Linked DNA regions of Homo sapiens: region 2 is linked to region 1. Evidence: fine-mapped expression QTL. Tissue or cell type: whole blood. Region 1 holds a variant in brackets; the other region holds the start of a gene. All regions are shown on one strand. Distances are from middle to middle.

Region 1 (4,166 bases):
GGGTTGGTTCCAAGTCTTTGCTATTGTGAATAGTGCCGGAATAAACATACGTGTGCGTGTGTCCTTATAGCAGCATGATTTATAGTCCTTTGGGTATATACCCAGTAATGGGATGGCTGGGTCAAATGGTATTTCTAGTTCTAGATCCCTGAGGAATCACCACACTGATTTCCACAATGGTTGAACTAGTTTACAGTCCCACCAACAGTGTAAAAAGTGTTCCTATTTCTGCACATCCTCTCCAGCACCTGTTGTTTCCTGACTTTTTAATGATTGCCATTCTAACTGGTGTGAGATGGTATCTCATTGTAGTTTTCATTTGCATTTCTCTGATGGCCAGTGATGGTGAGCATTTTTTCATGTGTTTTTTGGCTGCATAAATGTCTTCTTTTGAGAAGTGTCTGTTCACGTCCTTGGCCCACTTTTTGATGGGGTTGTTTTTTTCTTGTAAATTTGTTTGAGTTCATTGTAGATTCTGGATATTAGCCCTTTGTCAGATGAGTAGGTTGCGAAAATTTTCTCCCATTTTGTAGGTTGCCTGTTCACTCTGATGGTAGTTTCTTTTGCTGTGCAGAAGCTCTTTAGTTTAATTAGATCCCATTTGTCAATTTTGGCTTTTGTTGCCATTGCTTTTGGTGTTTTAGACATGAAGTCCTTGCCCATGCCTATGTCCTGAAGGGTAATGCCTAGGTTTTCTTCTAGGGTTTTTATGGTTTTAGGTCTAACGTTTAAGTCTTTAATCCATCTTGAATTAATTTTTGTATAAGGTGTAAGGAAGGGATCCAGTTTCAGCTTTCTACATGTGGCTAGCCAGTTTTCCCAGCACCATTTATTAAATAGGGAATCCTTTCCCCATTGCTTGTTTTTCTCAGGTTTGTCAAAGATCAGATAGTTGTAGATATGCGGTGTTATTTCTGAGGGCTCTGTTCTGTTCCATTGGTCTATATCTCTGTTTTGGTACCAGTACCATGCTGTTTTGGTTACTGTAGCCTTGTAGTATAGTTTGAAGTCAGGTAGCGTGATGCCTCCAGCTTTGTTCTTTTGGCTTAGGATTGACTTGGCAATGTGGGCTCTTTTTTGGTTCCATATGAACTTTAAAGTAGTTTTTTCCAATTCTGTGAAGAAAGTCATTGGTAGCTTGATGGGGATGGCATTGAATCTATAAATTACCTTGGGCAGTATGGCCATTTGCATGATATTGATTCTTCCTACCCATGAGCATGGAATGTTCTTCCATTTGTTTGTATCCTCTTTTATTTCATTGAGCAGTGGTTTGTAGTTCTCCTTGAAGAGGTCCTTCACGTCCCTTGTAAGTTGGATTCCTAGGTATTTTATTCTCTTTGAAGCAATTGTGAATGAGCATTCAACTCATCATTTGGCTCTCTGTTATTGGTGTATAAGAATGCTTGTGATTTTTGTACATTAGCTCTTATGCTTACATAAAATTCATCTCAATACTGCCCAGTCTCTTCTAAGAAACCTGGCATTATCAGATTAAAAAAATTTAAACATAAAATTTGCCATGTTAGCCATTTTGAAGTGTACAATTTAGTTCCATTAAGTATATTCACAATGTTGTGTAACCCTCACCACTAGCTAGTTACAAAACTGTTTCATTGCGAACAA[AT/A]TCTGTACTCATTAAACAGTAACTTCCCATTCCCCCACTACTTCCAGCCTCTGATAACCTCTATTCTCTCTCTATGGATTCATCTATTCTGGATATTTGAATATAAATGAAATCATAAAATATGTGGTCTTTTGTGTCTGGCTTATTTCACTTAGCATGTTTTCAAGGTTCACCCGTTGCAGCATGTATCAGAATCTCATTCTTTTCTATGAGTGGATAATATTTCATTGTGTGTATGTTCCACATTTTGTTTTATCTGTTTATCTGTTGGTGGATACTTGGGTTGCATCCATCTTTTGGTTACTAAGGTGGTGAATAATATTGCTAAGAACATAGGTGGCCAAATATTTGAGTCCCTGCTCTCAATTCTTTTGGGTATCTATAGAGGAGTGGAGTTGCTGGACAATATGGTAATTCTGTATTTAACTTTTTGAGGAACTGCCAAACCGTCTTCCGTAGCGGCTGTGTCATTTTACATTCCACTAGCAGCGTATGAAGGTTCCAATTTCTCCACTTCTCCCAACACTTACTTTCTGATAAAAATTTAAAAAAATGGTACAGCCATCCTAGTAGGTGTGAAGTGGTACCTGGTCATGGGTTTGATTTTCATTTCCCTAATGACCAGTGTTGAATATCTCTTTATGTGCTATTGGCCATCTGTGTATCATCTTTGGAAAAATGTTTATTCAAGTCCTTTACCTACTTAAAACATTGGGTTAGGTTGTGGTGTGGCTGTCTGCTGGGATGGTATTGCATCAAATCCATAAATCAATAGGCAGAATTAAAATGTTAGTATTGAGTATTCTAATCCATCAATATGGCATATTTCTCCATTTATTCAAATCGTTAATTTTTATCAGCAAGGTTTTGAGACTTTTAGTGTAGAGATCTTACATATCTTTTCAAAAGTTATCTCACACTATTATGAATGAAGTTGCTGTTTTAAAAACATTTTATTTCTGGCCAGGTGTTGTGCCTCACACCTGTAATCCGAGCACTTTGGGAAGCCAAGGTGGGTCTCTATAAAAGTAAAAAGAAAAAAAAAATTAGCTGGATGCAGTGGCATGTGCCTGTGATCCCAGCTACTCAGGAAACTGAGGTGGGAGTATCACTTGACCCTGAGAGTTTAAGGCTGCAGTGAGCCATGACTGTGCCACTGCACTTCAGCCTGGGTGACAAAGTAAGACTCTCTCTCAAAAACTTGTTAATATATAAAATACAGTTGACTTTTGGATACTAACCTTGTATTTTGCAGTCTTGTGAGCTTATTCCAGTAGTTTTCTAGATTTCTTAGAACTTTCTATGTAAAAAGTCTCATCTGAAAACAGTTTTACTTCTTTCCTACCTTTATGCTTTATCTGTTTGTATGCCTGCCTGCCTTTTCCTCTTCAATTTTGCCTTATTGCAATGACTGGGACTCCGAGAACACTATAGAACAGTAGTATGGATCGGCACCTTGCTTTGCTCTCAATATTTGGGGAAAAGCTCTAGTATTTCACTGAGCTGTTAAGTTTTTCATACATAACCTTTATCAGGTTGAGTATGTTCCCTTTTATTCCTGTCTGCTGAGTGCTGTTAGAGAATTTCATCAAATGCTTTTTTCCTGTATCTATCGAAATGATCCTCTATTCTATTATAAATTAGATTGGCTTTCAAATATTTAATTATCCTTGCATTCCAGGGATAAACCCTACTTGGTCATGTCATATTATCCTATTTGTGTATTGCTGGATTCAGGTTGCTGGTAAGTTTTTTTTTTTTTTTTTTTTGCATTGATGTTCATGAGAGATATTTACCTCTCATTTTCTTTTTTGGTAATGACTTTATAAGGTTTTGGTATTAGAGTTATGCTGGCCCCTTAAAAGGGACTGGAATATTCCCCCTTCCTCTTTTTGATAGAGGTTATACAAGATTGGTGTTATTTCTTCCTTAAATGTTTGATAGTTTCCCAGGGAAACCATCTAGGCCTGGAGTTTTCCTTGTGAGAAGATAATAAATTTAATTTCTTAAGTGAATATCAAGTTCTTTTTCTTATTGAATGAGCTTTGTCTATTTGTGTCTTCAAAGGAAATTTTCCATTTTATCTGTGGTGGTAAATCTGTTGGCATAAGTTGGTGTTCTTTTTATCCCTTTAATATTTGTAGGCTCTTTAGTAATACCCCCCTTTCCTTTCTGATTGGCTGTCTTCTTCATATCCGTAGGATCTGTAGTGATAACCAAAGTTTTTTCACTGCCCATATGGGCAGTCGGTCCTGTCTTTCCTTGATCAGTCTAATGAGGTGTGTATCAGTTCTGCTGATGTTTTAAAAAATCAGCTTTTGGCTTTGTTAGTTTTCTCTGTTCTGTTTTGCTCATGTTTTGCTTATTTTTATGATTTCTTTCCTCTACTTTCTTTGGGTTTATTTGGCTCTTTTTATAGTCTTCTAAGGTAAAAATTTAGATCAAGTTTAGGTCTTTCATTTTTTCTGTAAGCATTTAAAGGTATAAGATGACTTTTAAGCACTACTTTAGCAGTATCCTGTACATGTTGAGCTTTAAT
Region 2 (4,166 bases), 59 kb before region 1:
GAAATTGGTTGAAATTAGCAAGAAGAGAGTGTGAGAAGGAAAAAAGAAAGTAGCCCCAGTCATATCATTGGCAGAGAACACAAGGTAGGAGAAGGAACAGGAGCTAGAGGAGACTGAGACAGGGGAGCAGGAGAGTGCAGACTCACAAGATCAAAGCGGAGGGGGGCTCAGCAGCAGGTGAATATCCCTGTTCTTCCTAAGGCTTCATAATCTTTTTGTTGTTGTTGTTCCCTAGATGGAGACTTGCTCTATTGCCCAGGCTGGAGTGCAGTGGTGCGATCTCGGCTCCCTGCAACCTCTGCCTCCCGGGTTCAAGTGATTCTCCTGCCTCAGCCTCCTGAGTAGCTGGGATTATAGGCACGCGCCACCACGCCCAGCTAATTTTTGTATTTTTGGTAGAGACAGGGTTTCACCATGTTGGCCAGGCTGGTCTTGAACTGCTGACCTCGTGATCCACCTGCCTGGGCCTCCCAAAATGCTGGGATTATAGGTATGAGTCACGGCGCCTGGCCAGCTTCATCATCTTTAAAAGCAAGTAAGTCAAAGTTAAGGGCAGCAATGTGTTAAGTTACTCCAACGTAAAAGACTGAGTCGAACAGGTAGCAGGTAACTGCACGTCCTCTCTCGCCAGTGTGGAGATGAACCAAGGCCTGGTAGTTCTTCCCTGTCTTCTGTGGTGTCTCCTCCCACACTGCCAAGCCCCTGCCTGCTGTGGCCGCGTACCTTTGGAGGAGAGCCAAGTAGAGGAACTGTTAAAAAAAAAAAAAAAATTATGATACCCAGGCAACACTCACTCCATTTTCATTTCCTGCAATACTTCTGATTTTTAAACTTTGCCTCCTCCTGTCTTGACTTCAACAAATTGGTAACAGTAAGGGTTGCATATGTACACATATGATGGCGGTAAGACTTGGAAAGCATTTGTTTATAATAATCAAGAGGAAAGGAGAAGAAAAGTGAATAGGAGACGGGAGAGCAAGAGAAAGAGGATAGGAAAAGGAGGATCCGAGTCGGGACTAGTTTGGGGGTGGAGAGATGAAGAGTGTGCTCTAGGAAACAGGTTGCTATGGGTTTTTAAAGGTTTGTTTTGCAAACGTTATCCTTAGCCCAAGCTGTCCCCCGTGGGCATCAGTCTTCAGCATTTTCTCAGCCTCCTTGCTGGAGCACTGGGCCTGGGCTCCAGCAGAAAGGGCGAGTGGATAAGGTCGGCAGCTGCGAGCCTGTCTCTGGGGTGCAGTTCTTCTTAAGGCAGCCGACCACCCAAGCGCAGGGCCAGGAGCCAGCTCTACCCGGCTTCTCCAGGTCCTGTGTGTTTGGGGTTCCCTGGCGAGGAAACCCTGGAGTAGAAGCCCTGTGTTCTGGGTATTAAAAACATTAAAAAAAATACGTTAAGACAAATTTGATCGTAGCTCATACTGCAGTTACAGGTTTTAAAAGCTGGTTTCTAAGTTAAGCAGGTGACCAGGTAGGGTGCTTGCTCCCACCCCCATCCCCTGTTCCATTATCCAAGGGGTCTTATCCTGACTTCTCAAGTGTGGAAACACACAGTCACGTGTTCCTTGGGACTGTGGAAAACGTGCACTTTGGGGCTCACAGGGGCTGGCTTTTCAGCATTGACACGGTGTTCTTCTTTCCTGTCTTGTTTTGGTGATCATCCCACACGACTAGATTAACCTGTTGTTTTTGCAAAGCCCCAGGATTTTCCTAAGCGTCCAAGCCGCCCGGCCTTGTCTTTGTTATGAAATAGTCAAAGGGCTTCAAAACTGCAGGCAGTTGCCGCGCACGGCGCCCGTCCTTGGAGGCCTTTTCTCTGAGAATGGAGTTTTAGATTCAGGGATTTATGACTTGACTTTCCCGGGGCCGGCGCCCCTGCGGAAGCGGCGGTGGCTCGGGAGTCAGACCCGGTTCCCACGCCGCCGGGAGCATCCTCCCCGCCATCTGCGGTCGGGTCTTCTCGACAGGGCCCGGCGGCCTTTGCAGGACGCGAGTTGGGGGGCTCCGAAGGCGGCCGGCGCGCCCCCCCGCGCCTCCCACAATCCCCGGCGCCCGGCCCCGCGCCCCTGACCCGGGTGTCACCGCGGAGCTGCGGGAGGCCTCGGCGGTCTTCGGACGCGGTCGGGAAAGTGGCGAGCGCGCGCCCGCGTCCGCGCCCCCGCTCGCGAACGCCGGCTTCGGCCATTTCCGGCGCGGCGCCCTTCGGCAAGTTCCGCAGTCGCCTGTCGGAAATGGCTGCCGGCCGGCAGGGGGAGCGGCGGATCAGGCGCGGCCTGGAAGGCGGGCGGCCGGCAGCCAGAACGGCTTCTGGGACGCCGACTTTCGCGCAGGCGGCGGCGGCGGCGGCGGCGGGTCCCTGAGCTGGAAGCCGGTAGGACTGCTGGCCGCGCGTGAGCCCGAGGAGCGGGGGCCGCGCCCGGAAGGGCTCATGGGAGGGTGCCGGGGCTGGCCCCGAGCGCTGGGGACGCGGCGGGAGGGACCGGGTCCGCCGTGCCCCGGGGAGGCTGCTGCTGCCCGGCGGCGGGAGGCATGCAGCCTCCGAGCGGAGTAGGCCTGCCCGGTGGCTCGGGGGCCCGGGGAGAGGCCGCCAGGCCCTCGGCCGGCAGCCGGGAGGGCTAACGGGTCCCTGGGCTGGGGCACCCCCTCCCCGCCCCCACACGCCCTCTCTCGTCCCAGTTTGGGCTGCTCGGGACCCGCCTCCACCTTTTTTTGGACGCTCGGCTGCAGCTGTTGGGCTTCCTCTGCTCCCTGAAGCCCTCCACCCTCTGTGACCCGCGGCGTTTCTCTGGCTGCTGGCCCGGAGCATCTTCTGTCGGCGGAGGCGCAGCTCCGGACTACCCCCACCCCTTCCCGAGCACACCTTCCCACATCTGCCCCCCGCTTCTACACGCAGTCGCCTGCTGCCCTCCCCGCTGGCTCTTTTTGCCGGGCTCGCCTCCTTTCAGGAGCCACAGTCAGAGGAGCCGCTTCCTGTCCGAGGGTCCAGGTGCTGCAGGACCCTGGCTCCCAGGCCCAGCTCCCCTAGAGCCGGCCTCGCGCTGCACGGGCTGGACCGGACAGGGGTGCGCGGGGCGTGTGTGCGCGGCGGAGCTCCGAGCCCAGCGACGGGGACAGCACCTATTCCGAGCCCCTCGGAGGCGAGCCAGGGCTGCCCGGCTGCTGATGGGTGCTGCTTTCTCTTCCCCACATTGAGCGAGAGCTTCGGCTCCTTTTATTAATAAAATCTGTTTGGCTCTCAGAAGACTTAAATTTTGTGGATTTTGCCCCTCCCCCGCCACCCGCACCACCCCACCCCCGCCCTTCCCCGCAACCTGGATTTTTCTTCCCTTTTTAAAAACTCTAAAAGCTTCATCAAGTCCTCTTGGTTCGACTCCTTTGGTGGAGGAGGAAGCGCAGAACACCACAACATGTCCATTATTTCCCCCATATGTGATTTACTTAAGAGTCGTCTTTAGCATTTCTTGTCACTTTGTCCTATTCTTTGTCCAATTTAGGTAGCTTCATTTTTACTGGCAGAGCTCCCCGTGCTTTCTTTTGTTTTTAAAGGCTTTGTGTGTTGCAGCCATGCAGACTCTGCAGTTTTCTGTATTTTGTTCGGCAGTGAGTCCTGCATTCTGATACAGTGACTATCGCTGTGACCTGTGTGCTGGGATAGTAACTGCGGGGCACAGAGTCTGGAGCGAAGCGAAGCCTTCTCAGCGACTTGCTATTTAGCAGAGGGACTTTGAAATATTTTGTGATGAAAGAAAAACCGTTTTCTTAAACTGTTATTTGATGTGTTAAAAATACCTTATCCTGTGGGAATTTCCCATTCGTTTGCTTGTGGGGAGCCGGAGGAATCATAAGAACTCACGAGCAAGAGAGAATCGAGCCTAAGTGCTTTCTGGAAGAGTCAGAATTGTGGCTCTTCAGACTTCCGGAAACGTGCTTAATGTCCAGAGATGTGAGGGGCATACCTACCTAAAAAATGATTGACAGGCGTATGTCTGTATCCCTCCACTTCTCGCTTTTCTAGTGGGGGAAAACCCTGTTAATACTTGGTGTGTAGTTGGGATCTTTCAGTGATTAGGCCTCAAGAGTTTTGACCTCGGAGTAAAAAGATTTTAAGGGAACAGTTTGGAGAGAAGTAAGTCGGGCCAGGCCGAGCATGGGAAATGTATTTCTAGGAGAGA

What was found. PIP is the estimated chance that this variant, and not a neighbour inherited with it, causes the effect.
Region 2: it holds the start of EXTL3, and the variant in region 1 is fine-mapped to the expression of EXTL3 in whole blood (TOPMed, PIP above 0.99).

What each region holds. Positions count from the first base shown.
Region 1 is chr8:28,758,517-28,762,682 of GRCh38, forward strand. No RefSeq gene overlaps it. Among named protein-coding and RNA genes, the nearest start is that of EXTL3, 59 kb to the left of the region's middle. The variant AT/A (reference allele first, on the strand shown) is at 1,627.
Region 2 is chr8:28,699,295-28,703,460 of GRCh38, forward strand. EXTL3 (exostosin like glycosyltransferase 3) reads left to right here and starts at 2,207. Exons shown (of 7, transcript NM_001440.4): 1 at 2,207-2,365. It overlaps EXTL3-AS1 (EXTL3 antisense RNA 1), which reads right to left and starts at 2,170. Exons shown (of 3, transcript NR_126027.1): 1 at 2,066-2,170; 2 at 147-749. RefSeq lists silencers at 1,946-2,125, 2,196-2,265, 2,366-2,775.